Linked DNA regions of Homo sapiens: all the other regions are reported to be linked to region 1. Evidence: microRNA targets listed by miRTarBase, many of them from high-throughput screens and not tested one by one. Region 1 holds a microRNA gene; each other region holds the end of a gene's coding sequence. Distances are between the middles of the regions.
What was found. Region 1 holds the annotated microRNA hsa-miR-513c-3p (UAAAUUUCACCUUUCUGAGAAGA, at 7,059-7,081, shown strand). A microRNA usually pairs through its seed, bases 2 to 8, with sites in the 3' UTR of a target mRNA and lowers its output. Matches are read on the target gene's strand: a 7mer-m8 pairs with bases 2 to 8, a 7mer-A1 pairs with bases 2 to 7 and ends in A, and an 8mer does both.

Region 2: miRTarBase lists PIGA as a target of hsa-miR-513c-3p. Seed matches in the 3' UTR shown: 7mer-A1 at 8,442-8,448, 7mer-A1 at 7,314-7,320 and 7mer-m8 at 6,713-6,719.
Region 3: the mRNA of IFNB1 is a reported target of hsa-miR-513c-3p. Seed matches in the 3' UTR shown: 7mer-m8 at 3,372-3,378.

Annotation. Positions count from the first base shown.
Region 1 is chrX:147,185,573-147,196,797 of GRCh38, reverse strand. MIR513C (microRNA 513c) reads left to right here and starts at 7,011; the gene lies at 7,011-7,094. All of the region lies in intron 1 of LOC105373347 (periphilin-1), which reads right to left.
Region 2 is chrX:15,312,856-15,324,080 of GRCh38, forward strand. It overlaps PIGA (phosphatidylinositol glycan anchor biosynthesis class A), which reads right to left. Exons shown (of 6, transcript NM_002641.4): 6 at 6,601-8,917. The coding sequence ends at 8,651. ASB11 (ankyrin repeat and SOCS box containing 11) reads right to left here and starts at 2,785. Exons shown (of 7, transcript NM_080873.3): 1 at 2,570-2,785. The coding sequence starts at 2,750.
Region 3 is chr9:21,069,332-21,080,556 of GRCh38, reverse strand. IFNB1 (interferon beta 1) reads left to right here and starts at 2,615. Exons shown (of 1, transcript NM_002176.4): 1 at 2,615-3,453. The coding sequence starts at 2,688. The coding sequence ends at 3,251.

The DNA.
Region 1 (11,225 bases):
TTCTAAAACTGATATAAAAGGCAAATAAACTAGAATATCCAAAAGAGTCTGAAAGAGAATCACAAAGTTGGAGAATTTACACTTGTAATTTCCAGATTTACTGTCTAACTAGATTAGCCAATATAGTGTGGTACTGAAGAAAGGATGGACAAATAGAAGGACCAGAAATATACATATATGTCACCAATTCATTTAGACTAAGCTGTAAAGTCAGTCTAATGAAGAAATGATAGTATTTAAACAAGATACTGGAAAATGTGATATATATATATATATATATGAAAAATATGAACCTCGATCCATATTTCAAACCATATACGGAAAATAACACAATTTTAGGCCAAAATGTCCAAGTATAAAATTTTATGAATAAAAGGCAGAATATATATATATTTTTTTATTTATATAGATATTTATTTTTAATCTTCTTTACCTTTCAGTAACTTTTTTCCCCCGATAATATACCATAGGCATCCTATCAATTATTATATATGATATCAAAATATAAAAGTAAAATTAAAAATAAGTTGATAAAATAGACTTTGAAAAAATTAAAATTTGTCTTCAAATCAGACCACTGAGATAATAAAAAGGCAATCTACAGAATACTAAAAATATATGTAATTTAATAATGTGATAAATAACATATATCCAGCATAAATAACTACATATAATTTAACACTCCTGTGTATACCAAGAATTTTACTAGTTACTTTTTAAAAAGTATCTGTGTTTTTCAATAAAATGTCAGTTCTATGAGGCTGTTTTGATCTGTGTTGTAGTCCTAGCACATGAAAAAAACCTGGTTTAATGGCTACGTATTCATTCTGGACCTTCCTTGCTATACTATAATTTTGTCACATCATTAATGTGAATATATTAGTTTATCCTCATAATTTATAATGCGTTAACAACATTTATTAGAGTTAGGAGTCAGGAACATGGAAAGGCAAGAACTCTAACTGAATAGGCTGAGTATATATAGATTTAGGGAGCTCGAAAGAGGGAAAGTAACTGCCAAAAACAAATTCTACATTTTTCCAAGTTATTCTTATATCCGAATTCTGTCAAAGAAAACTACATTTTTATTGATATCTTTCCTTTTTGGACCACGAGCACAATTCCTGTTTATTGCAGAACAACTTGGAAAACACATAAAAGGTATGAAAAACTTGAATAGCAGTAATGAAATAATACCATAATACCAGTAACATCATATAATATGGATACAGTTGTTGATAAAATTTAGATGTAGATCTTTCCACACATCTATCTATATTTACACTTACTTAGGTTTCAGGTTGGGGTCCACAATTTTGTAATGCATCATGAATATTTTATAAAAACATTGAGTTACCAGGTAAATAATTTTGAAAAATCATTTTAGATGCCATGTTTCATTCTATCATACAATTTTTTTTCTGATTGATTTCTGAATTGCTTTTATAGCATTTTAAATATTTTAAATGTTTTCTAAGTCTTGTCTAGTTTCTCTCAGATTTACTACAATATTCCATTTTAAATAGTGGGCTTTTTTGCTATTTATTTCCACCAGAATTCCACCTCCATGATCCAATCACCTCCCACCAGGCCCCACCTCCAACACTGGAGATTAGAGTTCAACCTGAGATTGTGGTGGGGACACAGATCCAAACCTTATAATACTGCCCTTCCCTCTCCAAAATCTTATGTCCTTCTCACTTTGCAAACTACAATCCCAGCATTCCCCCAAAGTCTTAACTCACTGAAGCATTAACTCAAAAGTCCACAGTACAAAGTCTCATCTGAGACAAGGCTAATTCCTTCCGCCTATGGGCCTGTAAAATAAAAAACAAGTTAACTTCTTCTAAGATACAATGGAGGTATAAGCATTGGGTAAATACTTGGGAGAAAACAGCCAAAAGAAAGGGGCTACAGGTCCTGCGCAAATCTGAAACCCAGCAAGGAAGTCATTAAATCTTAAAGCTCCAAAATAATCTCCTTCAATTCATGTCCCACATCCAGGGCACACTGGCAGAAGGGGAGTGCTCCCAAAGCCTTGGGTAGCTCAAACCCTGTGACTTTGAAGGGTTCAACCCCCAATGGGCTGGCATTGAGTACCTACGCTTTTTCCAGGCCCTATTACAAGCTGTCAGTGGATCTACCATTCTGGGGTCTGGAGGATGGTGGCCCTCTTCTCACAGCTCCACTAGGCAGTACTTCATTGTGGACTCTGCATGGGGGCTCCAACCCCACATTTCCCCTCTGAACTGCCCTAGTAAAGGTTCTCCATGAGGACTCCACCCCTGCAGCAGGCTTCTGCCTGGACATCCATGCTTTTTTATACATCCTTTGAAATCTAGGCCAAGGCTCCCAAGACTCAACTCTTGCTCTGGGCACCCACAGGCTTAACACCAAGTGGAAACCACCAAGGCTCATGGTTTGCACACTCTGAACCAGTGGCTCAAGCTGTATTGGGCGCCCTTTGGGCAGAGGCTGACACTGGAGCACCCAGGCTATCGGAAGCAGTGTCCAGACATTGCACAGGGCAGTGGGACCCTGGGTGTGGCCCACGAAAGCATTCTCCCCTCCAAACCTCTCAGACCGTGATGGGAGGAGGGGTTACTGCAGAGGTGTCTGAAATGCCTTTCAGGCCTCCCCATTGTCTTGGCTATTAACATTCAGCTCCTTGTAACTTCAGGAGATTTCTGCAGCTGGCTTGAATTCCTCCCCAGAAAATGGGTTTTTATTTTCTACCATTTGGCCAGGCTGCAAATTTTCAAAAGCTTTACACTCTGCTTTCCTTTTAAATATAAGTAAGTAAGTGCCAGTTTTCTATCTTTTTTTGTTGACACACATGAGCATAGGTTATTAGAAGGAACCAGGCCCCATCTTGAATGCCATACTGCTTAGAAATTTCTTCTACCAGAAACCCTAAATCATGACTCTCAAAGTTCCACAGATCCCTAGGGCAGGGGCACAATTCCACTAGTTTCTTTGCTAATCCATAACAAAGGTGACCTTTACTCCACTTCCCCATAAGTTCCTCATTTCCATCTGAGACCTCCTCAGCCTGGCCTTTAGTGTCCATATCACTATCAGCAATTTAATGACTGCCATTTAACAATTCTTTAGGAAATTTCAACTTTTCCTTCATCTTCCTGTCTCCCTCCGAGCCCTCCAAACTGTTTCAACTTCTGCCTGTTACCCAATGCAAAAGCTGTTTCCACATTTTTAGGTATCTTTATTTGGCTCATGCTTCTTTAGGCTGTACAGGAAGCATGGCTGGGAGGCCTCAGGAAACTTTCAACCATGGCAGATTCAAAGGAGGAGCTAGCACCTCACATGGCTAGAACAGGAGGAAGAGAGAGGCTGGGGAGGTGCTACACACGTTTTAACAACCAGACCTCGTGAGAACTCACGATCATGAGAACAGCACCAAAGGGATGGTGCTAGACCATTCATGAGAATTTCACCCCCATGATCCAAACAACTCCCACCAGGCCCCACCTCCAACATTAGGGATTATAATTCAACATGAGGTTTAGGCAGGAGCACAGATCCAAACCACATCACTATTGGAAAAAGTAGACATCATGGATGAGCAAATGAGGAATTTTAGCACAGAGATAGGAAGTGTAAATTTCTTAGAAATTTACAGTTAGAAAAAAGCAAACAATTTTGAGAGATAAATACTGATTTTGATGGACTCACATTATCTCTATAATAAACACAAATGACAATTTTTTTCAGACAAAGAAAATTTAGATTATTCACCCCAGTAGAAATGCATTACATGACATGTTAACACATTTCCTCAGGCAGAAAGAAATACCGGGCAGAAACATGAATCTAATCTACACGAACAAACTAAAAACCCAGAAAATGATGAAGATGACGATATGGATGTGAAACAGAAATATCTCGGGCCCCAAAATCACTAAGTTAAAGGGAAAATTCAAGCTGGGAACGGCTTAGGACAAACCTGCTTCCCATTTTACTCATAGTCACCCCTCTGCTCACTGAGATAAATGTGTATCTGAGTACCTCCTTTGGAAAGGTTAGTAAGTCAGAAGAATGCAACCGTTTGTCTCTCACCTACTTGTGACCTGGAAGCCTCCTCCCTACTTTGAGTTGTCCCACTTTTACTTCGAGTTTTCCCACCTTTTTGGACCAGACCAAACCAACGTTCATTTTACATATTTTTATCGCTGTCTCATTACTCCCTAAAATATATAAAACCAAACTGCGCTCTGATCACCTCGGGCACATGCCATCAGGACCTCCTGAGGCTGGATCACAGGTGTGCATCTTCAACCTTGGAAAAATTAACTTTCTAAATTAACTGAGACCTGTCCTCAAATTTTTGGGGTTCATACAGGGGTTATTTTATTATTTTCAATCAGTCAGTAACAGATAACAGTGTGAATAAATATGTATGTGGGAATTAGAACATTAATGAAAGTAATTAACATATATATTACAAAGGATGGGGTGAATTGTAAGTATACCATCATAAGATTTTTAAACTATACAAAAAGTAGGATCATATTCTTTGAAGATAGACTGTGATGAATTAAATATGGACACTGGAAACTCCAGAGCAACCACTATCTTTTTTTAAGTGACCAACTAATAAGAGTGCAGAAAATATAACTGAATGATAAAAATACTGAGTCTGCCATCAGGCAGAAAAACAGGAAAATAGGAATTAGAAAAGGATGAAACATAGAAAACAACTAGAAAACCGGTAGATTTAAATGCACATATATAAATAATTGTATTAATATAAATGATATAAATGCTTCTATTAAGACAGAGATTGTCAAATTACATAAAAATAAGAAACCACTAATATACTATGTCAAACAAACCCATTTTAAATATGAAGACCTATGTGAAAGTTGGGTAAAAGTAAAAAGATGGAAAATATATTAATGCAAACACTAAATATTAAAGCTAAAAAATCTTATTAATTATTAATAACACCACCCCGCCCACACACACACACACACAGAGAGAGCACCCCAATAAATGAACGATAAAGAACCATGGAGCTAAGAGAAATAGAATAGCATTTCCTGTCTTCCAGCCCATTATCTGTCTCGTCTCTCTCTCGTATTAATTTCTATGGATTCTTCCCCCTGCATAGCCTGAAGAAGAAATTAAATTTCTGCTCTCTCTAACCTAGTTTTCTCTGACTCTTCTGCACTTCTCTGCATCCAGGTGGTTGTATTCTGTGGTTTTTCTGTTGGAATTTAGGTCTGTGCAGCACAGCTGGAGTTTTAGGACAACAGAAAGCTTTAGTGAGTGGTTGGTCCTTTGTACTTAACTGTAATTTTAAGGGTTTTTTGTTTTTGTTTTTTTGAGACAGGGTCTCGCTCTGTAACCCAGGCTAGAGTACATTGGCACCATCTCTGCTCACTGCAACCTCTGCCTTCCTGGTTCAAGTGATTCTCCTGCCTCAGCTTAGAGTAGCTGTGATTACAGGTGCAAGCCACTACACCTGGCTACTTTTGTATTTCTAGTAGAGATGGTGTTTTACCATGTTTGTTTGACCATGTTGGTCAGGATTGTCTCAAACTTCTGGCTTCAAGTGATCTCCCCACCTGGGCCACCCTAAGAGCTGGGAATTCAGGCATGAGCCACCATGCCCGGCTGAGTCTGAAGATTTTTTTGAGACAGATTTTCACTCTTGTTGCCCAGGCTGGAGTGCAAAGGTGCAACCTTGGCTCACTACAACCTTTGCCTCTTGGGTTCAAGTGATTCTTCTGCCTCAGCCTCCAGAGTAGCTGGGATTACCGGCGCCCACCACTACGCCGGGCTAATCTTTTGTATTTGTAGTAGAGATGGGAGTTTTCCCACGTTGTCCAGGATGGTCTCGAACTCCTAACCTCAGATGATCTGCCCACCTTGGCCTCCCAAATTGCTGGGATTACAGGAGTGAGCCACCGAGCCTAGCCTGACTTTGAGGATTTTTTTTTTTTTATTACACTTTAAGTTTTAGGGTACATGTGCACATTGTGCAGGTTAGTTACATATGTATACATGTGCCATGCTGGTGCGCTGCACCCACTAACTCGTCATCTAGCATTAGGTATATCTCCCAATGCTATCCCTCCCCCCTCCCCCCACCCCACCACGGTCCCCAGAGTGTGATATTCCCCTTCCTGTGTCCATGTGATCTCATTGTTCAATTCCCACCTATGAGTGAGAATATGCAGTGTTTGGTTTTTTGTTCTTGCGATAGTTTACTGAGAATGATTTCCAATTTCATCCATGTCCCTACAAAGGACATGAACTCATCATTTTTTATGGCTGCATAGTATTCCATGGTGTATATGTGCCACATTTTCTTAATCCAGTCTATCATTGTTGGACATTTGGGTTGGTTTCAACCATTGTGGAAGTCAGTGTGGCGATTCCTCAGGGATCTAGAACTAGAAATACCATTTGACCCAGCCATCCCATTACTGGGTATATAACCCAAATGACTATAAATCATGCTGCTATAAAGACACATGCACACGTATGTTTATTGCGGCATTATTCACAATAGCAAAGACTTTGAGGATTTTTAATGAGACAAGCAAAATTACAGGAAAACCAATGGGATAATTCAGACAAGGATAACTCACCTCTGAAAAAGAGGAGAAGTGAAAAGCTCTATCATTGCTCAGCCTAAAAATCGGCGTGTTAATTAGCTGTTCATGGTGGTGCACAGCTTTAATCCCAGCTACTCAGGAGGCTGAGGCAGAATCACCTGAACCCGGGAGGCGGAGGTTGCAGTGAGCCAAGATCACGCCAATGCATGCCAGTCTGGGCCAGATTCCGTCTCAAAACAAAACAAAAATCTGCATGTTAATATCTCACTCAGGGCAGGGTGAAAAGGGGAGTGCTAGGGGCTAGAAGTTGCATTGTTACTTGGCATAAATCTTGGTGGCCATGCGAAGGCATACACCTATAGGGACTTGAATAAAAACGGCATGAATAGGGAACATTTGGTCTGGGATGCCACATTCAGCCATTCAGCGTACAGTGCCTTTCTCAAGGAGGTGTCGTTTATGTGAACTAAAATATAAATTTCACCTTTCTGAGAAGAGTAATGTACAGCATGCACTGCATATGTGGTGTCCCTAGGGATGGGGCTGTAGCTGCGAGCATGGTGATGCCTGTTTTGCATCCTGTGCACCCACTCCTCAGTGCTGGGCTACTTCAAGGAACTTTTTGTGCCTTCTAGACGACTACACATAAGAACTGTGGACTCCTGAGAAAACGCATGCACTTTGGTTCCTTAAGAATTTATCTACTTTTGCCAAATGAGGCTTGGCTCAAATAAGAAATACGTTGTATAGAGGCCACAGCCATTCTTCGTCAGCTGAGACATTTTACTCCAGATTCCTCAATTCTCTAAACTCTTTTCACTGATCAACTAGTCATCATTTGCAAGGATTGTCCTTTAGTGCTCCCAAAAGGCTCTCCTGCCTCTCAGGTCCCTTCATTGCTGATCCACAGTGTCCATTTTCTGTCAAAGACTAAAACATTTTCTCATTGACTGTTAAAATACCTTTCAAAGCCTTCAGTCACCAATTTATGAAGGGTTAAGCATAGTCCACCCAAGAATATTTCACCCTTTTTAATTATCTTTTTTCCCCATTTTTTAAGAGTATATTTGAAGAATGGAAGGGTATGACAGAATTGATACTCAAGAGATATCTCCTAGGCTTCTCTCCCCATTTTCTTTTGGTGACGCTTAACTCTTAACCTAATGGAGAGAAATAGAGGGAAATAAACACACACACACACACACACACACACACACACACACACACACAGAGAGAGAGAGAGAGAGAGAGAGAGGAGAGAGAGAGAGAGAGAACATGCAAGAGAAAGACAAGCACCAGACTATGTAAGGCCATCTGCAGCATTAATCTAGTATACATGTTTGGGAAGTAGGTTATAAATAAGCTATTTATATTGTGGAAATGTGTAAAAAATGTTATAAATAGTAAGTGATTAATACAATTTTGATTCCAACTGAAACAGAGGCTACAGCATAAACACCGAAAGGGAAAAACTATAAAAAACAATTACTATATGGTTACAGGCAGGATTTTGGTTTATGTTTTTTTAGATTCAGAATGTATGAATATGTATAAGACCATTAATGTCTGAAAGTAAAAAAAACAGTTGAAGTATCTTTTCCATAATGAAAAACATTGTAATAATAGAATACATACAATCTTTTTGGGGTGGGGGCAACATTCTGAACAGTAAAAAAATTTTGTCACTTTGCAATACTGTATGTACATAGAATTTTCCAAAGTGATAACTGTTTTTAGTATATAATTTCTAAAACTGTATTATAGTGATGCATGTTTACTTATATAACTTTAAGTGATATCTTAAAATGAAATAAAAGAGAATTTAGTTGTTATCATACCTCTGTTATGATTTCTCAAAAGAATAGTATATTTACTGGTATTTGTGTTTTTTTTCAGTGAAATACTGTTTTGTATTACTCAGCCTTTTTTCTTCCAATTTATTAAGGTTTAACTGACATAAAAATCATATTTAAGGTGTACAACATGACGTTTTGATATATGTGTACATTATGCAATGATTAAATCAAGCTAATTGAAAAATAAAATATGAACATAAAATATTTATTTGAAACTCTAAGAAAAAATTACAAGATCTCTGTGGTAGGCAGAGTAACAGCCCCCGCCCAAACAATGTTCACAATGTAACCCCTGAACTCGTAAGCATCATATTTTATTGTAGAAGAAAATTTGTAGATGTTATTAAATATTTTGAGATTGGGATTATCCTAGATTATCTAGGTGAGCCCAACATTATCACAAGGGCCCTTATACGTTGGAGAAAGGTGGTTAGAATGAGAAACATTGCAAAATACTATAGTATTGACTAGAGGTAGAGGTAAAGGCCATGAGCCAAAGAATGGAGAAAGTAACTAGAATCTTCTAAAGACAATCAAGTAGATTCTCCTCTAGAGCCAACAGAAGGAACAAAGCCCTGCCAATGCCTTCATTTTAGCCAAGAGAAACCTAATTTAGATTTTTGACCTTTAGACTCTAATATAATAAATTTGTGTTGTTGTAAACAACTAAATCTGTGGCAATTTATTACAGTATCAATAGAAACCCCAAAACATCTGTATGCTAAAACTGTAAATATACTAAAAAAAAATACTAATTAAGTGGCGAGGACTATCATATTTATGGATTGAAGGATTCAAATCTATAGACTTTTAGACTTCCATTAATCTCTAGAAGTAATACAATTCCAACCAATGTCCCAGAAAAATATTTGTAGACATTAGCAAGATGATTCTAAAACTGATATAAAAGGCGAATAAACTAGAATATCCAAAACAATCTGAAAGAGAATCACAAAGCTGGAAAATTTACACTTGTAATTTCCAGATTTACTGTCTAATTAGATTACCCAATGTACTGTGGTACTGAAGAAAGGATGGACAAATAGAAGGACCAGAAATATCCATATATGTCACCAATTCATTTTGACTAAGCTGTAAAGTCAATCTAATGAAGAAATGATAGTATTTAAACAGTAAGATGCTGGGAAATGTGAGATATATAAAAAATATGAACCTTGATCGTATTTCAAACCACATACAGAAATTAACACAATCTTAAGCCAAAACGTCAAACTATCAAATTGCATGAAAAAAATGAGAGAAAATATTTTTGACCATTAAATTATTACATATGATATCAAAATATAAAAATAAAATTTATTAAAAATAAATTGATAAAATAGACTTTGAAAAAATTAAGACGTCTTCAAATAAGACCACTGAGATAATAAAAAGGCAAATTACAGAATAAAAATATTTATCACATTATTGAATTACATATAACATATATCCAGCATAAATAACTACATATAATTTAGCACTCCTGTGTATACTAAGTATTTTACTAGTTACTTTGTAAAAATTATCTGTGTTTTAAAATGTCAGTTCTGTTAGCATGTGTTGAAGCTGTTTTGATCTGTGTTGTAGTCCTAGCACATGAAAAACCCTGGTTTAATGTTTACGTATTCATTCTGGACCTTCCTTGCTATACTATAATTTCGTCACCTCGTTAATGTGAATATATTAGTTTATCCTCATAATATATAATAAATTAAAATGTGTTCAGCTTAGGAGTCAGGAACATGGAAAGGCAAGAACTCTAACTGAACAGGCTGAGTATGTATAGATTCAGGAAGCTCAAAAGAGGAAAAATAACTGCCAAAAACAACTTTTACACCTGTCCGAGTTATTCTTATATCAGAATTCTGCCAAAGAAAACTACATTTTTATTGATGTATTTCTTTTTCAGACCATGAGGATAATTCCTATTTATTACAGAACAATGTGGAAAGCACATACAAGGTGTGAAAAACATGAATAGCAGTAATGAAATAATTCCAGTAACATCATAATGTGGATACAGTGTTTGATAAAATTTAGATGTGGATCTTTCCACACATTTATCTGTATTTATACTTAGGTTTTAGGATGGGGTCAACAATTTTGTGCCATTTTCTTATAAATGATTTCAAATAATGCATCATGAATGTTTTATAAAAACATTAGCCTAATAATTGTGAAACATGGTTTTATGTGCTGTTTCATTCTATCATACAATATTTTTCTGATTGATTTCTGACTTTTTTAGCATTTTAAATATTTTAAATGTTTTCTAAGTGTTTTCTACTTTCAGATTTACTAAAATATTCCATTTTAAATAGTATTTTCTTTTTCTTAGATTTTGTTCCATAATTTTTTTCATTAAGAACATACATGTATTATCACATTTAATCCACTCAAAACCCTCAGAAGGCAGTAGTTATTTTTATCATGAACTTACAGATAAAGAATGCAGCTTAGAGAAGTTAAATAAGTTGTTTAATGCTGTGAACCAAGTCCGTAGTCTGATCCTAGGGTTATACTGTAACACGAAAGGATACTTACACGCAAGACTAAAGAGGATCAAACCTGATACTCAACCTATGGCTGCATTCCATCCTGAACCACAGTGCCAGAAAACAGTGATTACAGTTTTCTATGATTCAGTGAGTTCACTGGGAGTTTCTTCTGCTTAGGCTCACCTGGGCTCAAACATGCAACTACAGACATCTACTCTGGGGTGGTCTAGAATGCCCCCTCACAAGGATGCAGTTCCAACTGGAATGGCAGGAACAGCTAGCATGGC
Region 2 (11,225 bases), 130 Mb from region 1:
ATAATTTAGGAATTAGAGAGACTGAGGGGTTGAGGAGGATTTATTGTTTAGGTGTATTGGCCTAGTTGCATTAATATTTAAAGGACTGGGTTTTGAATAAAGAGTTGTTATTTTTTAAGTATTTTGTGGGGCGGGGGAAGATTTGTAATAATATAGTATCTGACTGTTAACAGTGGTATCAAAAGAAAAACACAGAACCATGTGAAAAATACTGGTCCAGGCATGTTACTGCCTACATTCTTATAGAAAGACTTATTTAGCGGCCAGGCACAGGTGCTCACACCTATAATCCCAGCACTTTGGGAGGCCAAGGTGGGCAGATCACTTGAGGTCAGGAGTTCGAGACCAGCCTGGCCAACATAGCGAAACCCCATCTCTACTAAAAATACAAAAATTAGCCGGGCGTGGTGGCGTGCGCCTATAATCCCAGCTACTCAGGAGGCTGAGGCACGAGAATTGCTTGAACCCCAGAGGAGGAGGTTGCACTGAGCTAAGATCGTGCCACTGAACTCCAGCCTGGGTGACAGAGCAAGAATCCATCTCAAAACAAACAAAAAAACAGAAAGTCTTATTTACCAAATCTTGGTAAATTTGGGGGTGGGGGGATTCGTGTATATGTATACACACACACACACACATATACATATATATATGAAAGAAATAAAACTGGGAAATTAACATGCACCATTCCCTGCCTCTTTAACAATAATTGAAAAATGTTTTTGACCTTAGAATACTATGCTACTTGCAAATTAACCTATTTTAAGAGATTGAACAAGTAAAGATATTTGCACTACAGAATGAACGAACTGTATTTAAGAGATTTGTATTCCAGCTCCAGATTAAATTCAAACCATGCTTACATGGGTTTTGACTATAAGGAGGTTTTATACCTTTTTTAAGAGTGCACTTGAGGCCGGGCGCGGTGGCTCACGCCTGTAATCCCAGCACTTTGCGAGGCCGAGGCGGGCGGATCATGAGGTCAGGAGTTCAAGACCAGCCTGGCCAACATGGTGAAACCCTGTCTCTACTAAAAATACAAAAAAATTAGCTGGGCATGGTGGCGTGTGCCTGTAATCCCAGCTACTCAGGAGGCTAAGACAGGAGAATTGCTTCAACCGGGACCTGGGAGGCGGAGGTTGCAGTGAGCCGAGATGGTGCCACTGCACTCCAGCCTAGGCTACAGAGCGAGACTCCATCTCAAAAAAAAAAAAAAAAAAAAAGAGTGCACTTAATTAAAGACCACAAAGACAGAAATAATGCGCAGGTGCAACAGGAGAAAACATTTGTAACATGTTCTTGCCAATATTGACTTTGTTGGACTTCATCTAATTTAGACCAGAAGAATGATTTATCTATGAGAACACCAAAACTATTATTGAAAATTTTAGAAAGCCCTTGCCCAAATTGACAAATTAAATTAGAAGATAACTTTTCAGATCATGCTTAACTTGAAACTTATCAGAAGCATTACTTTTTTTTTTTTTTTTTGTAACTAGTCAAAGTAACATACCTCCCTGAAATGTGTGACAAATATAATCCCCAAAAGAAATCTCTTTCCATGGTCCGGACCTTCTGATACGTTCTGAAACTTCACAATTCTTCTCATTTTCCCCAGTTAATTGAAGCATTCTGATGCTTCGTCCTTGGAGGTCTTATTTCTTTAGATAAGACTGCTGTTGTCTAGTGTCTTCTGAGTTGTCTAGTGTATTGGAATCACATAAGACTATTTTGAAAGAGAATCCTGGATGCAAATTGAAATGGATACTAGATAAAGAATGATGTAATCCTGGAACCCCTGCAAACACTAAAAATACACGGGGAAATTCTGAACTCTGTTTATGAATAAATACTCCTCTATTAAGTGACAATCCCAGGAGTGACAGGGATATCTGACTCATTTACTTTTGTAGCATCTCACCACAATTAAAGTAAATCATTTCTTGAAAGAAATGGACACTATTCTCTACAAAGCATGAGAATTTAAAATGTTTTGCCCAAATCTTGGCATTTCATGTTAGAATAAACTTTGTTTGGAGTGCTTTGCATGCTACCATATAAAATGGGTTTAGTGAAGAGCTTTTCCTGACAGTGACAAGTGGTTAATCAATTCCAGTTGCAAATGACAGCAAAAAAAATACACATAGCTTGCCACGTTTGCTGCTTTAATTATAATTTATTAGTCATTCTATTTCCTGAGAGAATTTAGTCTGGTTAGAATGCCCTTCATTGTTAAAGTTTGCTTTAAAATATTAAAGAAAATAATTATATACAAGTAATTACTTTGGCTAGTAGAAATGAAGTTTCTCAAAATACTCTTAGTAAGCCACTACCTATTTACTTCTTAAATAACAACTGCTACAAGATCTACGAACTTGCAAAAAATAAAGCTGAAAATCCTCCACAAATTGATGCAGCCAACAGCATTTGCTACTTTAAGTGACAATTTTTCAAACTACCCACTTAAAATCAAAGTATAAATATAATCTGCCTTCCAGAAATACTAGTCATATGAATTATCTAGGAGGGATTTTCTTTAAATATTAGGAACAAATTCATGTACTTTTACCTGAAATTCCACCATAGATCTCTTCTGCTATCCTAGCCGCTTCTTTTCTATTTCCTTTGACGATATAGAAATGGGTTAGGAGAGCCAAAAAAACTTTAATTAAAAGCTTAAAGAAAAAAAACGTAGCAAACATTGTAATAAAAATGTTTTTAAAGCCATAGAAAACAGGACCATCTTCCATTTTGGCTTATGCTCTGTATAGGGTCCTAGGACTGTAAAATTTCACTGAGTTATAATTGGTATCATATGACATCTATTTTAAACCTTCTAGCACTCAGTGCTCCTGTTACCGAGATCTCTGTAGGTTCTAATCTAACTGATTTGGCGACTGCATGTGCTGACTCCACAGCAGTGTTAAATAAACTAAAGAAACTTCCTTCTAACCAGAAACATCCAATAGTTCTAGAACTACATAACTCAGTACTATCTAACAGATAAGATTCATATCCAAACATTTTATATTCCTAAACCCCTATTTTTCCTATTTTATGTTAGAAAGCAGGGTTGGAAAGATAGAAACTTCTTGGCTTCCACAGAAACAAAGCAAGTTATTTGACATACAAAAGAAGTGCAAATATGCTGTATGTTCTAAGTGGGAAATACTACTCCCTGGAGCATTTCATTTTCTCTTAATTCTGAAGTTTATAGAGGATTAAATCCAAATCTAAAATATGACCAGTTAAAAAAGACCATTTACCTGGCCGGGCGCGGTGGTTGACTCCTGTAATCCCAGCACTTTGGGAGGCTGAAGCAGGCGGATCACCTGAGGTCAGGAGTTTGCGACCAGCCTGGCCAACATGGCGAAACCCCCGTCTCTACTAAAAGTACAAAAATTAGCTGGGCGTGGTGGCAGGTGCCTGTAATCCCAGCTACTCAGGAGGCTGAGGCAGGAGAATTGCTTGAACCTGGGAGGCGGAGGTTGCAGTGAGCCGAGATCGCGCCACTGCACTCCAGCCTGGGTGACAAGAGCAAGATTCTGTCTCAAAAAAAAAAAAAAAAAAGACAATTTACCCTAAAGCTGTATGTATGTATGTATGCATGTATGCACGTATGTATGTATTTAGTTTTAAGATGGAGTCTTACTCTGTTGCCCAGGCTGGAGTGCAATGGTGCGATCGCGGCTCACTGCAACCTCTGCCTCCTGGGTTCAAGCGATTCTCCTGCCTCAGCCTCCCAAGAAGCTGGGATTACAGGCATGCGTCACCACGCCTGGATAATTTTCGTATTTTTAGTAGAGACGAGGTTTCGCCATGTTGGCCAGGCTGGTCTCGAACCCCTGACCTCAGGTGATCCACCCACTTTGGCCTCCCAAAGTGCTAGGATTACAGGTGTGAGCCACTGCACCCGGCCAAGCCTGTATTTAATAAAAGGCCTATCTTGGATGCCTCTCCAAGTAAGTGTCACACTAGAAGCATCAGACTACTCGCCATGGTAGTTCCATCTGGGACAAGGTCCCATGGCAAGGTTCCCTCCTGATCATTCACTTGCATTTCAAGCATTGGTAAAGGTGGTGCCCATTTCTGAAAAATGTGGGCTATCCTTGATCATGGAAGAGTCATAGTGAAATGGACAAAAGAGATGCCCTAGGTTCTGGATGAAGTACCCAAATATTTCATGAATCAACCTTCTCTAGTTGGGCAATTTTCTCTTATCAGCTGGCCAACACAAGTGAAATGGGTTTATTTTTAGTTTTCCTCATCACTCTAGGTCTCTGCCTTCATTCTTGGCTATGTTCGATTTTGTAAATTTTAAAAATCAATTGAAAAGACAAGCCAAAATATAGTTATACAAGTGGCCTAATAAATCTTAACAAATGATTTATGCAAAAATATGGGAATTTCTCCTAGCATGCAGGCAAATTAGAATGACTGCCTGGTTAAGAACTGTTTCACTACATTAAAAAGCTGACATGTAAGAATACAATCTTGAGTCACAACATACAGCTCATCGATTTCAGTGTATCAGAGCACTATAAAGACCTTGAGTCGTCTTAACTCTCAAGGAACAGACATTAACATAAGATTTACTTTACTGAGCTTATATTACCTGGTAGAATGCCAGTGTATGAAAATACATGAATACAACTCTTTTAGTCCTTTTCATTTATCTTTCTTCAATTATACTCTAAGTAGGCAATCATTTAGTCATGTCAGACCAGTGATGTACATTGTTCTATAACATTATTCAATCTTGTTTTGGTCTTTTCATTTAAAACATGGCTGTCCTATGTTTTACACGCCAAAAAAGTTGGCCATGAAAAGCTCAACTTTATTAAGGTTCAAATGGGTGTCTATACTATTTCTGAGAGGCCATCTTTTTTTTTTTTTTTTTTTTTTGAGACGGAGTCTCACTCTGACTCCTAGGCTGGAGTGCAGTGGCGCAATCTCGGCTCACTGCAAGCTCCGCCTCCCGGGTTCACGCCATTCTCCTGCCTCAGCCTCCCAAGTAGCTGGGACTACAGGTGCTCGCCACCACGCCCAGCTAATTTTTTGTATTTTTAGTAGACACGGGGTTTCACCGTGTTAGCCGGGATGGTCTCGATATCCTGACCTCGTGATCCGCCCACCTCGGCCTCCCAAAGTGCTGGGATTACAGGCGTGAGCCACCATGCCCGGCAAGACCATCTTTACTATATTTGAACATTACATTTGTGATGGGCATAAAAGGCTACTGATACATAAGGACAGTTGATTCATGCTATCTTTCACAGATGAAATCATCAACAGCACCAAGGTTTCTCAGCCTCAGCACTATTGACATTTTGGGACAGATACATGTGTTGTGGGGGATGGCCCAGAGCATCGCGGAATGCTTAGCAGCAACCCTGACCTCTACTCACTTGATGCCAATGCCCCACCCCACCTAGTAGTAACAACCAGACATTGCCAGATGTCCCCTGGGAAACAAAACTGTCCCCCCAAGCCCTAGTTGAGAACCACTGAGCCATACCCAAATAGAAATGATAAAGGATAAAAATCAGTTCCCCCAAGTACTAAAGGCTACAAATCAAATTCTACATAGAACTTTTTCATAATTTTATATTAAAAAATCCAGCCACAGGATGATACAATTCAACATCTAGCCACATCCATTTGGGAATGCAGAGATGGATAAAGAGGCTTTAAAATTACTTCACAAAAGTAAACACAGACCTATACTACCCTGACTTTGCCAAAAATAAGTTTTGGCATAAGATAAATCAAAACATAAACATAGGTGACTGCTTTCCACTGCTTCCCACAAAAGGAGTGGGAGAAACTAAATCAGGGATGTCCAATCTTTTGGCTTCCCTGGGCCACGCTGGAAGATTTGTCTTGGGCCACACATAAAATACACTAACAGCAGATCATGAGATCAGGAGTTCGAGATCAGCCCGGCCAAAATGGTGAAACCCCATCTCTACTAAAAAATACTAAAGTTAGCCAGTGTGGTGGTGGGCGCCCGTAATCCCAGCTACTCAGGAGGTTGAGGCGGGAGAATCATTTGAACCCGGGAGGCGGAGGTTGCAGTGAGCCAAGATCGTGCCACTGCACTCCAGCCTGGGCAACAAGAGCGAAACTCCGTCTCAAAAATATATAAATAAATAAATGAAAATACCCTAATAGCTGATGAGCTAAAAAAAAAAGAAAGAAAGAAAGAAAGAAAATCACAAGTCTCATAATGTTTTAAGAAAGTTTACAAATTTGTGTTGGGCAAAGTAGAAAGCATAATTATGTAGCTCACATACACAGTATAGTTTGTAGATATTTTCCTTGTCTCACGTGATAATGCTAGGGCAATGAAAAACAAGGGCTTATTTGGGTAAGGAAACAAAGGCACAATTGAACTCGCTATTCCATGAGTGAGAGAGAGAAGATATTCTAGAAACAAAAAATGACAGAGTAATTCATCGCCCAAAGGGTATTTCTTGTTTTACTAATAGACCAAGCAACACATCCAAATTGCACTGAAAAAGAATGTGTCGGGGGCAGGGATAGCCTGTTCCACTAGTAAATAATAGTCTGTTCATAAAATAAGACAAACTCAGAAAATTATCAAAATGTCATTCTGGTCTTTATTTTTGGACATGTAGCATGTTTTAACAAATCAGTTTTTCATAGGCAACCTTTTGAAACATCAAAAGAAATACAATATATTTTTCACAAATTTCTCATCACTGTAAATTCACTTTAAAATCAACTAAGTAGCAGGGTAGAGCAATGTGTTTCCATATACCGACCAGTGCAAACTGACAGTTACAATTAAGGTATCCAGAAAGGTTGAAAATTAAGATTTACGTGAAACAAATTTACTTCCATTTGTTAAAAAAAAGAAAAATAATAATTTGCAAATCACATGTTTTACAGGCAAAGGCAACTAACTTTAGATCTTATTTCCATCTCAAATAAATGACAGTTTAAGAATTAAATGACAATTTAAAAAAATTAAGCAAAAATATAAGGAAAAAATGGTGGCATGCCTCTAAAACCTGTTGAATAGAATAATGGCCAAATATTACAGTTTCTCACTTTCCTATGAATACTGGCACTGTTTATTTCATGTTTATATGTGAGTTTCTATGCATAAAAATCCCAGTAAGACTGAATAGTTTAAAGATCAGTCCATTTTTCTCCAACAAAACCCCTAACTTCTAGATTTTAAAAATTGCACTCTTGCTTTTGCATTTTAGTACAAACAAAACACAAATATATTTCTTTTATATCAGTGCAACCAGTTAATAGGCATGTTATTTTTTAAAAAGTAATAAATTTTGTGAATGTTGTCATTTTTAAAAATCCTATACAGAATCACAACACTGTCAGAATCTATGTAGTGCACCCACAAGTGCCTTATTGTTTTGAATTCACAGTCCTTTTCTCACAAAAACCTTAAGAGTTCAAAGAATTCATAATACACACCATGTGGATAATTTGGGGTTAAAAAACCCATGGCTCTGGGCAACAACAATGACAGTTAATAACATCCACCCACAAAGACTGTTTCTAAAATTTTCAACTTAGTTTGCTATAAATAAACCATTCTGAAGTAAAGCCTTTTGCACACTGACAATACTTATCAGACATCAGCGAGGCCACAGTGAAGGGGAGTGACTTACATTAAAAGGACAGGGTAGCAGCTGGTTTTGGGATGGCACACCTCGTACATTCTGCTCAGAAAACACGAAGGCATTTATAGAAAACTCAATTATGCACTGAAAAATGTGGAGGGTTTCTCTGCACTATCAACAGTGATATCGGTCCCCAGTATTTAAAAAGCAAAAAATACCTTCACAAACACAACTGAAGATGGAGGCTCTACCTAGGAGAATGCATACAACAGGAACAAAGTACTAGTAGTGTGTCGGTGATTTTTTTCCTGGCATTAACTGGCATGAGCATTTTTGGCATGTTGGATATTGATCTCATATCAACCACAATTATGATGAAGTAAGCCATTTGAATGGTAAACAAAGAGTGAATGCACCCCTGGTCCTTAATGGCGGGAAGCATCTAGTTCAACATTCTACACAGAGCAGGGGTTCAAAATGTGCTGGTAACTGATGGACTATCTTACTCAAGGAACCTGTTAATTACATGTAACACCTACTGAGTGAACCTAATAAATGTTCAAAGACATGATTTAGATTCCTAATAAATGTATATGAACATGATATAAAACAGTTCATATAATTGTTGTAGTTCCCCTAAAGAAAACTTGTAAACATCTGGTGAGTGTCTAATGGTGTTACATTAAAAACTGGCCAAAAAATGCCCAGAAAACGTTTGGCCCTTCAGCACCCAAAGCTCTCAAAATATAATGTTAAAACATCTCTGCTACAGGGATTTCAGTAGTCTGAAAAATTGCATACCTGAGTGGCTTAAATGTTCTCTCCTAAATTTTAAATAAGTGCAAGAAGTTTCTACACTCAGGAATTGCATACATTTTTATCTTTCCTCAACAGAAAATATTGAATGATATAGAGGTAGCATAACTTACTAAATTAACTCTAAAAAAACAAAAACCCCCCAAAAGCAAGGTTATTTTCCATAGTCTTTATAGAACTATTACAAATGTTTAAAATCTTACAATCTAGGCTTCCTTCTACCTGGTTTCAGATATCTCATTATTCTCACCCCCTCTTTTACTGTGAGAATAGTTATTAGTCCAGGCACCCCGTGGCCCAGTGGCATCTATTGCAACATCAATGATAGAATCTGGAGTCATCCATCTCAAGAAAATGAGGAAGAGGAAGTTGAAAACTGCCAACAAAGCAAAGATGTAGCCTGTTACTGGGCCGCAGTGAGAAATAAGTCTGTCCAGTCGTTTGTCCATTGGCAACACAGCTTCCACTGATACCCGGTCATATACCTGGAGGGAGAGAAGCCAAGTGTGAGCACTTTCACCCATCACCCCATCACCTGTCCCATGATAAACAATGACCCGATCCTGCAGGAACATTTTATAAACAAATACAAACAAAAGTTGCTTGTGTTTTGTTGTTGTTGTCATAGTAATGATATCCTTAATGAACTTAATCACGATAATTATTGCCATTTGATTCAAAACTTATTGGGTACTTATTCTGGGCAAGACACCGGGCTAGAGGCTGTGTGATACAAAGAATAAGCCACAGTTCCTCTCCCCTAGGGAGTCACCATCAATTTTAGCCAACTACTAGAATTCCAAAGTCCCGCAAAGTCTGAACAGCTTTTGGGGTCACCACTGTAGGGTCAATATTTAATTCAGCAGTGACTTCAGCAGTACTGAAGCAGGATTTGCCTTTGAAGATTCCTTGACTAAGCTGAGATGCTCTCACCGGCATCTGGCAGACATCAACCACAAGCAGAGAGCTACAATCTAGCATACTTCTGGGAACACAGAGCCTCCTCTTTCAACAGCCACATGAGGCTGTACATGTTGCTGAGCATGGATGGTGAGGACATGCAGAAGCATTTCATGGATTTCAAATAAAAGAAGATAAAGAGATGGGGGAAATTTCAGTAGATAGTATAGGTCAAATGCTGGCAAATGAAATAACGTTTTTTGCTGAGCAAGTAGGTGGCTTGCTTTTTAAAACACTGCTAAGTACTAAGCTCTAAAATATCAAAAAACGAAGATCTTTAAACATACTTGTTCAGAACACATCAAATGGGCCAACATTCATATTTTGTAATTTGAGTATTACTTGTGCTTAGTCTCATATATTAGACCTTTAAACCGTCTCCTTTTGAACTCAAGGAAGTTATAACATGCAGTGCATGTTGTACAGGTCAACAGCCCTTGAAAGGTACGGCATGTTTTCATCGAGCTCTTTTACCCTGAGGACATTCTGAATACAAACATTTTAATCAGAATTATGTTGAGAATTATGCTGAGACTGGTGAATTGCAATTGAAGAAGTATGTTTACAGCATGAACTCCAAATTAATTTCATGATCGATTTCCTAAATAGCACAGTTAAACTAAGAAGGAGGAGTTGAAATGAATTAAAATGTCATAGGGTTAAAAGAGTAACTACAAACTGACTTTTTTGTCCAGCTTTATTTCAGGTCAATTAATCTACTTATAGTTTTAAGTGATAAAATAACAATTTACTATTATGAAGAGAATGTTAGCGATGACAATCCATTATAGGCAAGGATTTACTTTTTTCTAAAAGTGTATTATAAATCACCATAGAATTAAAAAAAATACAGATGCTGTACTATTACTTTAACCAAAAGAAAAATGTGGTTACCAAAAAAATCCCAATTAGCCCCTTTACTATATGCTGACAAACCGTCACCACAGTTCTTTCCCTGTTAACTTATTACCTACAGTGGCTCAGGCTTCTGGGGTTTATACGATGTCAATGAAGAAGGTCAAGTCACAACTTAACAGTGCCATGGTTCTCAAAGGGAGTGGAGATCAGGATGGTATCATCAAAATAACCTGTCTGACCAAATATCCCTGCCAATTATACCCCCAATTCTATCTCTGCTCCTAAAGGATAACACTGGAATCTAGGGAGTGGTTGGGGAGGCAGGGGGACATCAAGATGGAGTAGAGAGAGTCTGAAAAGGCTGCCCGGGGACTCTGACATGTACTCCCAACAGGTAAGCACTAGACTCCAACTTTCCATGTTTCATATGGGAGAGATAGTACAAGACTTGTAGAAGGTCAGAATGTCTCAAAATGCTTCAGTCAAAAATGTTTGACTGTCGCAAACATCTCATGTTTCAATGGAAAATGTATAAGACAATTTTTAGAGATAAGTTTTTAGAACTTCCATTCACATATGAGTTCATCTTATATACTGGAATTCATCATTCAAACCAAGTAAGAAAGCCTTACAGTAAAGAGCTATTCTCCTCAGCTCCAACTTGCTATCTACTCTAGGCTAAAAACTCATTGCTCCACTGAATATCACGTTGGTAGCATTACTCTAAACTACTACCTTCTCCATGTTCCACCTGGTTATCTTTCTGGTTCACAATTTCTACATACTAAGAAGCTGAGTTGTTTCTGTTCAGCTTGTTACATGGTAATAAGAGGCATGAGGCAGAGAACATCATGAAAAGGACGTAAAGGATGAAACTGAGAATGAAAGCAGTCCCTAATTCAAATTCAGGAAGCATTTCCCACAACTGTAATCTCCTACCTAAGGGTGTTAATCTATTTCCTATACCTGTCCTTT
Region 3 (11,225 bases), not on the chromosome of region 1:
TGAGGCCTTCTGTTGCACCTGGAAAGGTCAACTATATACAAGCCTGCAAGTCATTCTATAGGAGCAGGCCCCAGTGACCAGACTCTATAGACTGTCTCCTCTTTCCTGAGAGGGACAGCCATCTCTAGGTTGACTAACCTCTGAAGCTCCTTGCATTGGCTTTTGTGCTATGAGCCATGGATGATTCCAGACTAATCCGAGAATGCTCGTCAAAACCCCAAGGAATTACTCAAATACTGACATAACAGACATTTTTGAGTGGAAGAGCCGAGTTTTTTTTAATATTCTGAAACTCATTGTTTTTAAAATGCATGAGATGGCCAAGGTCTTGCTAAGAGCTGGCCTGCAAAGGCCAAAAGGCCAGAGAGAATGAAACCCATAGAGAGGCAGAATAACCAGAAAGGTTGGGACTCGTTTATTTTATAATGTAAATTAGTCTATTATGAAACAATACTTGTTTACTGGTGGAAAATTGGAAAATACAAAGAATAAAAGGAGGAAAAAAATCACTCTTTAGTTTCACAAGCCAAATCAAGCCACTATTAAAATGGTGGTTTACTTCCTTTTATTAATTTTCTCTACATATTTTTGCATAATCATGTTGTATGTACAATTTTATGTTCTATTTTTCAATATTAACTGGTGTCTTTCAAATTTCCTAATGACAAAAATAATATATGCTCATAATAGAACATTTTAAATGCAAATAAAACAAAATAAATGTTAAAATTTAGTAATATTTATTAAATTTTCTCCAAGTGCACGAAATTACAAATGTAACAACCTAATTCCCTAGTGGCCTAATAACCCTATTTCCCAGACCTCTTCTCATTACAAGGAAAAACTCATATGCAGATAGTTCTAAAGGTATGAAGTGAAAAGATAAAGATTTTTCTTCCTTGCTGCATCCTCACCCCATCAGCATTATTCCCCAGGGTAACTACTATTAATAGATAGTAATTCTACCCAAAGGAAAAAATCATATGCATATAACAGCATCATATGTATACCTTTCTAGTAACTTACAAAACAAATGATAATATCATATCCTTTCTTATGTGTATTGCTCTTTTCACTAAATGTATCTGTGATATGTGTCTATATCAGCTGATTGTCCTTTTTGATGGCTGAATAATATTCCATCTTGTCCACGTGATAGTATTACTTGACAAGCTCCCTGCTGATGGACATTTGTCTTTGTTACTATGATAGTAATATAATCAACATTTATATATGTTTTGTATGTATCTATAATACACATGCACATACACATGCATATTTCTGCAGGGATAGCCATAGTAAATAACTAGTAACGGTATTGCAAGTTAAAGGAACAATCTCATTGCTTGAAATTTTAAATTTTGAAATACACTGCCAATTTTCATGGTCTCTCCTTGTAAGCTAGTTTGGGCTTTCTCACAGCATGACAGGCTCAGGGCAGTCAGACCATCCTGGCCAAAGAGCAGAGTGCCACAGACCACAACTGCTTCTAATCAGCCATCTTCCCAAAGCCTTCTCTTTTTTCTATTAATAACTTTGTATGAGATTCCATCTTAATACTTTTCTGTTGTTTGGTCTTGTAAGAGCTTATTTTTCCTGAACCAGGAAGTGGTTCAGGGCGGTTTTTCTAACTTCACAGAGCTCCCTCTTCTGTTAGCTTTTGTGAAATGGTCAAAAACATAGCAGCCTGCCTTCTGAGTTCTCCATCCCACCCTGGTTGGGCCTTCTCTATCCTTGTCTGTGTTGTTTATATCCTGCTGAAGTGTGATTCCACTTGTGGCAGTTTCTCCTCTGTGTAGGATCAAAAGGGCTGTGACTGGTTGGTTTGAAAATTTCTTATACCCTAGACTATTCCAGTGCCTTTCAGAAGTTTCCAAGGCCCTCTCACACTAATCTATTATCATATTGGGCAAAACTCCTTGCAGTTTCAGCTACTATTCCCTGATTGACTTTTCAGTAAATCTATCTCTCAGTCTTTCAGTATCCAAAGAAGATTGGTTCTAGGACCACCATCCCGCTGCCTCCACAGATACCAAAATCAGAGGATGCTCAATTCCCTCTTATAAAACGTTGCAGTATTTGCATATAATCTGCACATGTATTTCTGTATATTTTAAATCATCCCTAGATTACTTATAATACCTGATACAATATAAATGCTAAATAGCTGTAACACTGTATCTTTAAAATTTACATTATTTTTTGTTGTTGTATTATTATTTTTATTGTATTTTTAAAAAATATTTTCCATCTACAGTCAGTAGAATCCACGGATACAGAACCTATGGATAGGAAGGACCAACTGTATCTTTTAGTGTTTTGAGGTTCTTGAATTCTCAGGTCGTTTGCTTTCCTTTGCTTTCTCCCAAGTCTTGTTTTACAATTTGCTTTAGTCATTCACTGAAACTTTAAAAAACATTAGAAAACCTCACAGTTTGTAAATCTTTTTCCCTATTATATATATCATAAGATAGGAGCTTAAATAAAGAGTTTTAGAAACTACTAAAATGTAAATGACATAGGAAAACTGAAAGGGAGAAGTGAAAGTGGGAAATTCCTCTGAATAGAGAGAGGACCATCTCATATAAATAGGCCATACCCATGGAGAAAGGACATTCTAACTGCAACCTTTCGAAGCCTTTGCTCTGGCACAACAGGTAGTAGGCGACACTGTTCGTGTTGTCAACATGACCAACAAGTGTCTCCTCCAAATTGCTCTCCTGTTGTGCTTCTCCACTACAGCTCTTTCCATGAGCTACAACTTGCTTGGATTCCTACAAAGAAGCAGCAATTTTCAGTGTCAGAAGCTCCTGTGGCAATTGAATGGGAGGCTTGAATACTGCCTCAAGGACAGGATGAACTTTGACATCCCTGAGGAGATTAAGCAGCTGCAGCAGTTCCAGAAGGAGGACGCCGCATTGACCATCTATGAGATGCTCCAGAACATCTTTGCTATTTTCAGACAAGATTCATCTAGCACTGGCTGGAATGAGACTATTGTTGAGAACCTCCTGGCTAATGTCTATCATCAGATAAACCATCTGAAGACAGTCCTGGAAGAAAAACTGGAGAAAGAAGATTTCACCAGGGGAAAACTCATGAGCAGTCTGCACCTGAAAAGATATTATGGGAGGATTCTGCATTACCTGAAGGCCAAGGAGTACAGTCACTGTGCCTGGACCATAGTCAGAGTGGAAATCCTAAGGAACTTTTACTTCATTAACAGACTTACAGGTTACCTCCGAAACTGAAGATCTCCTAGCCTGTGCCTCTGGGACTGGACAATTGCTTCAAGCATTCTTCAACCAGCAGATGCTGTTTAAGTGACTGATGGCTAATGTACTGCATATGAAAGGACACTAGAAGATTTTGAAATTTTTATTAAATTATGAGTTATTTTTATTTATTTAAATTTTATTTTGGAAAATAAATTATTTTTGGTGCAAAAGTCAACATGGCAGTTTTAATTTCGATTTGATTTATATAACCATCCATATTATAAAATTGCCAAGTACCTATTAGTTGTTCTTTTTAAAATATACCTGCAAAGTAGTATACTTTCTGGCCCCTGCCTTTAAGGAATTTAAAATTCAAGAAAGCCATGTGGAATATATAAGGTAAGAGACAATAAGGGGACCTGAACCTTATGGGGGAATAAATATGGCATGAACTGCTGTGGGATTAAAAGAGAAAAGGAAAGCTGGAGGGTCTGGAACTAAACCTGGGGTTCCCATTCCTCCTACTGTGTGCTCCAGATTCTCTCATCATAAAGTTAGAATTGAGCTGGCCATCAGGAATAGCCAGAGGAATATGTCAGCTTTTGTGTTCTCCCTAACCTTCCCACGTTATTTGGGGGATACTTTGCTCCTCGAAAGATTTTTAAATAATTATGTGCCCCCCACCATCCCTGCAAGCTTAAGGGTGAGAAGTCCCATTTACTTCCATGACACTATTAAGCAGCAATCTCTTTATTCTGCTCATCATGGGACAGCCAAGATGTGTGGGTATCTTAGGGGAGCTGTGGGTCCCTGTCTGCTGGCATGGCACAGGCATCAGAGGAAGAAGAACCTTTTTATACCCTAGCCATCTGGTTAGTTTTCTCCCTAGTTTTTCAAAAAACTAAGCCTGCTTCCAGTCCCCACTGCCTTGTTCATACAGAATTCCAGGAATGTCCTGTCCAGTTTTCTGTTGCTCTGCATTGCGGACGCCACATAGTTCCTAAAGCCAAATGAAAGAGGTGCAGCAGTTTAAGTCCAGTTTCAAACCAAGCAAAAAGCCAGGAAACATAGGAGAAAGGGAAGTTTAGGTGGGATAGAGAGGGCATTAATTTTTCCCAGGGCTTACACCGGGAAAAAAATCAAGCTTTTCTAGGAGCTCTTTGGGCACCTGGTCAGCATGGACTGACTGGTTAGGTTTTTGTCTTTGTACCAAAACTCGGGAACTTGGGTTATAGTGGCTATTACTGCCATTAGCAGTTGCTGTTTACTGAGAAATTCTAATGAAATAGGCACTGTGCTGAGATCCCACATAGATAATCGGATTTAATCTTCTCCACAAGCACCCCTCAGGTAGGCACAAGTACATTATTGCCATTTTACAGGAGAGGAAACTAAATCTCAAAGAAATTTAGTAACTGCCCATGGTCACATAATGATTTCATTCAGTCTCTAGTGAATGGAGATTTTAAAAAGAAGTTCAAAGAGAAGCATCATAAAAGTCTTTATTTGTATCTAGGCATTTTTTCCTAGAGCAGTAAAGAAATCTGAATTCCTTTTAAAAGAAGCAGCTTTCAGGAGAAGTAATCTGTTCATTAAGAGTTCCAGAGAAGCTACTATTGTGTAGACAATGAACTCAGGGCTCCCCCTTCCAGTTCAAAGTGGATAACACACACACGGGCTATGCAAACAAGAAATGTCATCATGGGGGGCCTGCTGCCATTGACTCAAACCAGTCAAGCCCCCCTCAAGCTTCATCCTTCCCCCAGCTCTCCACCCCTGCTCTGCCAAAAGCCCTTCTGTAGCCGAACTCCTCTTTTTCCTGGAGTCAAGGACAAGATCAGCAAGTAGCAATGCGGAGTCCAGGCAGTGTCTAGAGCAGCCAAGAGGAAACTAAAGAAATCTCTCTCAGCAATGGGCCCCTATTGTCCACTGCTTTCTCTGAGCTGAACTGCTAAACTGGCCCAGAAACTGGCAAGTTCTTGAAAAGACCTGCTCTACCTCCGTGTTGGGGCAAGAATGACAGGAGAGAGGCCACTTCTGCAGAATTAGAAATACTGTATCACAGCTTAGCATGTCAACCCATCCAGAATGCCAAAAATAAGTCCATAACCAGTAGAAGATAAGTAACAATTAAAATTAATTCCAATAAAAATGAAGGCAACTAGCCCAAAGGTGCACATTTGCATGTGCTGAACCGATGACTAGGCATGAGGAATAAAGTAAAATAATAATATTACTTTGGCTGGCACCAGAATAAGGTCTTAAGGAAAACACTCTTTGTTTAGAAAAATATCTAATGAGTCTGTAGAAAAATATCTAATGAGGCTTCACTCAATATCTAGTGAGATTTTGAGGTTATGGGTGTGGCAACGGAAAAGACAGTAAAATATCAATAGCATGTTTTGTGTGTCAGCTTTTAAGGAGAAAGGAGACAGACAGAAATCCCCCAAAGCTCTGGAACTGTGACACTACGTGGAACAAGTCAGACAATGAAAATTTTGCTGGTGGGAATGAAAAAAGAATTTTCCAAACAGCGTAGCTCATGTGCAGCATGAAATTGTGTGCGCTGATGTATTGAAACTCTGTCCGACATCATCTCCAAAACTTCAATAAAAATGGCTACCACAAAAAGTCCTCTGCGTAAAACCTCTGTGTACAAATCATAGAAAGTGCCCGGTCTCATGTTTGAACAAACATGGGGTGGCCAGATCTTCATAGATGAACCAAATTAGAAGAAACAGGAGGCAAAACAATGACAACACAGCCACCTTCCCCCTTCCCATATCACACCTTAGGAATCCACAAAGCTGGATTAGGAGATGGAACTGTCTTATCTAGCTCTTGAACAGTAAGAAGGCACTGGTGAACATCTGGGTTACATACAAATATATGAATTTTGCTTAAATATATGAACATGCAGATGCAGGGCAATATCAGCACACATTTGTATAGTCTTTTTTGCAGTCAACAAAGGTGTTATTTAGGCATTTTAGGTGGCATTAAACACGTTCAAGTATTCAGATAACATCTGATCAGGAACTTATTCATAAAATACTCTTAAGAAAATGAAAAGAACATGCCACAGACTGGGAGAAAGTATTTGCAAATCACATATCTGATAGAAGACTCATCTCCAGAATATACTTTTTAAAATCTCTGAAAACTCAATAATAACAAAACCACTAATAAAACAATAAAATACATAATAAATAAAATAATAAAAATGGATAATATATTGGAACAGATGCTTCATCAAAGAAGACATGCAAATAGCAAATTAGTATATTAACATGGTAAAATCTTTCTCAAGGATTGTTGGTGGTGTAGGTCAGATAATGAATGTGAAATGATTTGGTCCCAGGGGAGCCCTTTCCATCATGGGGACCTGCCATAGCTTCTGTCCTTTCTGAGCAAAGTTCACCAGCCCTCTTGGCCAAGCTCTATTTCTGATGCATGAGAGGTCTGCCAAGCACAGACTGTGGGGGCCCTCATCAACATGGATTTCTTCTTGACGGGTTTGGCTGTGGGAAACACAGAGAGAGCCAGCATCTGGTAATAGAGTCAGAAGATGAATGTCACCCAGAGCCATACCTTGTTGACTGCAGACATTTTCTCTAAACACATTGCACTGGTGCTTGCTGAGCCTAAAAAATGAACTGTTTTATGAGTCCTTTTGTTCTCAACATTAATTGTTGCTTTTTAAACATTAGTTTAATTGCCTAAAATTTACTAGGATAGTTTAAGACAAACTCAAAAATTGGACTAGTAGTGCCAGCACAAAATTATACTCTCCTAATTTAGTAGGATCCATTTAACCATTTAACTCGTTAATTGACCTGATGGAGAGTACTCCAAAAACATGTTCACATCATAGTTATCACCAAATCAGACAATTATGTTTCAGTTATTATTCTGTTTTGACATTCATGTAGAGGGTGTTCCTAGAAAACCTATAACGCATTATTCAAATTATATCCCCCAACAATTAGCCTACGAATTTTTAAAAAAATGGAGCCCACTTCAAAGGACTCTCTTAAGAGGATTAAAAGACAGGTCACAGACTGAGAGAATATATTTGCAAGTCACCTCTCTGATAAAGAAGTTGTATTGATATGTAAAGAATTCTCAAGATTCAGTGATAAGAAAGCAAATAACCCACTAAAAGACAAACAGAAGATTTCAACACATATTTCAGGAAAGAAGGTACAGAGATGGCAAACAAGACAGGAAAGGACCAATAACGTTAACCTTTAATGTAATGCAAATTAAACAACAATAAGACACTGCTACATACTTATTAGAATGGCTGAAGTTAAAAGGACTCACCATATCAAGGATTGGCAAAGATGTGGAGCAACTAGAACTTTCAAAAAGTGGTCCAATGACTTTGGAAAACCATTTTTGCAGTTTTTAAAAAAGGTAATCATATACCTACCACATGATCCAACCAGTCGACTCCCTAGTACTTATCCAAGAGAAAAGAAAGGATTCTTTTCTGTGTATAAACATTCATATACACAGACTTGTATATGAATGTTTGTGGGAGCTTTGTTTGTCCATCACAAATGGATGATTAAAGAAATTGTAGTATATCCATACAATGGAATATTATTCAACAATAAAAAGGAATGAATCATTGATACACACAATAACATGGATGAATCTCCAAAAAAATTATGCTGAATACAAAAGGGCCAGGCACAGTGGCTATGCCTATAATCCCAGCACTTTGGAAGGCTGAGGCAGGCAGATCCCCTGAGGTCAGGAGTTCAAGACCAGCCTGGACAACATGGTGAAACCCCATCTCTGTAAAAATACAAAAATTAGAGGGCAGGATAGCGATTGCCTGTAATCCGAGCTATTCGGGAGGCCAAGGCGGGAGAGTCACTTGAACCCAGGAGGCGGAGGTTGTAGTGAGCGGAGATTGTACCAATGCACTCCAGCCTGGGTGACAGGGCGAGACTCCATCTCAAAAAAAAAAAGAAAAGAAAAGAGACCAAAAAGGAATAAATTTTGTATTGGCCTATTTCTATAAAACTCTAGAAAGGAAAATTAATCTATAATGACAGAAAGCAGATTAGTGGTTACCTGGGGGTGGGGGCAGTAGTACTGAGGAGTGAGATGGAGGGAGAGATTACAAAGCAACACAAAGAAACTTTTGAGAGCGCAAGGACATTTTCACTATCTTGACTGTGTTGATGGTTTCAGGGGTGTATATACATGTTAAAACTTATCACAGTGTCCACTTTAAATATGTACAGTTTATTACATGTCATTGTACTTCACTGAAACCTCTCGAAAAATAAAAAAGTATAAATTTACTGAAAAATAAATAAAATGGAGCCAAAGCATCTTGTTGTGTTCCCTTGTTAAACTCAACATACATTGTTTGATGTCTTAAGATCTCTTTTATAAGACTCCAAGATGAGATTAAATCAACAGGCTCTTAGAAATAAAAAATTATCTTACAGTCTAAGTTCATTGTCAGTTAGAGGTTAGATTGTTAAAAGTTTTTACTTATGGCACATTTGCAATACTCCATATTTTAAATGATAGTCCAAGAAGTGGATCACGATCCCTGCGTGCTAAAACTATGGGGGGAAAAGCCAAGAGCACTTCACACATTGCATATCTGCACCAAGTGCAATACAAGTTACATATTACAAATTCCAGTGCTTAAGGAAATGATTTTTCCCATTTTCATATTGTGGCAAAATATACATAAAATGTAGCATTTAAACCTTTTTTAAGTTACATTTTAAGTTCTGTAACATTAAGTACATTCATATTGTCGTGCAACCATCACCACTATTCATCTCCAGAACTCTTTCATCTTTTTCATTTGCAACTCTGAAGCCATTAAACACCAACTCTTCATTTGTCCTTCTCCAAGCCCCTGGTAACCACCATTCTACTTTCTGTCTCTATGAATTTGACTACTCTTGGTACCTCATATGACTAATTATATAAACTTTGTCCTTTCGTGACTGGCTTATTCTTCTTAGTATAATATAATGTCTTCAGGTTTCATCTATGTTGTTGCATGTTTCTGAATTTCTTTCTGTTTTAAGGCTGTGTGTGTTTGTGTGTGTGTACCACATTTAGTTTATTCATTGGTCCATTGATGCATACTTAGTGTGCTTCCTTTTTTTGGCTATTGTGAATAATGCTGCTATGAATATGGGTATACAAATATCTATTCATGTCCCAGCTTTTACTTCTTGGGCTATATACCCAGATATAAAATTGCTGAATCATGCAGTAATTCCATATTTAATTTCATGAGAAATCATCAAGGCAACTATTTTTAACTTGTGTCTTCATAATGGAAATATTTGCAATGATAGTACAATGCAAACACAACAATAACAGCTACATTTCTTAAGGACTTACTTTCTGCAAGGGATCTGCTGAGGATGAACTAGCTAGCTAGCTAGCTAGCTCGATAGATGATAGTTAGAGAGATGGATGGATGGATGGATAGATAGATAGATAGATAGATAGATAGATAGATAGATAGATAGACAGACCATCTTATTTAATCATCCAGAGAACATCTATGAGGTAAGTATTGTTCTCTCCTTTTTATACATAAGAAAACTGAGGCTCAGTAAGGTTAAGTAACTTGACCAAATCCACAGTAGGTAAAGAACAGAGACATATTTGGAACCAGGGACTATACTCTTAACTACCTGTAATCATCTACTACCACCCAAAATGCTATTTTTACCCAACTACATAGCACAAATATTGCAATTTAGAGAAGGAACAAGAAGCTCTACTGCCCGGCAGCTCATGCACAGCACAACTCCTGGTTTTGCTCCAAGTGGGTGCACTAACGTCCAGTGGCCTGTGGGGATCTTTTGCAGAAAGGACTGCTGTCCTCACTCAAGCAGTTGGTCTCCTTCCATCCCCATGCAGAAGGGAACTCTCTCTCTCTTCCTTTTTCTAAAGAGAATAGCAGGAAATTCCCATTTGCTCCTTTGCCAGACTCTACGGAGAATATTTTCTCCAAAGGTTTTTGTAAGCAACTGTCTGAATCATGAGTCATCGTTTTTCCCTTGGCAAGGCTGCATTTCCTTCTCTTGAGCACTACATTTTTATCCATGTACTAGCAAGACAGCCCTGTGTGCAGTTTCCCTCTCAAGTCTGACACAAGCTGATTTTGTTATCTCACAGGAATGCTTAAAAACTAAAATGGCTTACATTACTTAATGGAAATACACAGCAAATTTCTCTTTCCTTTCACTTTTTAATTTCTTGGCTCATTTTCTTTTTATGAAAGTCCAGAGGTAAAACAAATAACTTTCAAAGCAGAAAATGATTTACTAATCTAGAAATGCATGAATTGAAAGTCTGTGCATTGAAAGTACAAAGTTTTTTTTTTTTTTTTTTTTTTTTTTTTAAGTTTCCTATACTCTGATGGCAAAAACACAGGGCATGAAATAATACAAACCTGAGAGCTACTGTGGGTTCTGCCACTTTGTACCAGTATGGTCTTGGGCAAGTTAAATAAATTAGAAACAATCATACCCCAAACTCTTCAAGATTTCTATGAGAAATAAATGCAAAAAATGGGATGTATGACTTGGTCCAACACAGGGCCTTGTAAATACCACGGGATCTCACTTACATGTAAAATCTAAAAATGTTAATCCCATGGAAACAGAGCATGGAATGATGGTTGCCAGAGCTGGGACAGTTGGGATGGGCAGGAGAGGGCTGGGGAGATGTTGGTCAAAAAATACAAAATTACAGTTACATAGGAGGAATAAGTTCAAAGGATCTATTGTACAGCATGGTGATTGTTAATGATAATATATTGTATTCTTGAAAAATGCTAAGGGAATGGGTGTTAAGTGTTTTCACCACAAAAAATAATAACTATGTGAGATAATGCACTTGTTAGCTAGATTTAACCATTTCACAATGTATGTATAGTTCAAAACCCCATGTTGTATGCAATAAATACATGCCATTTTTATCTGTCAATTTAAAAAATAAATT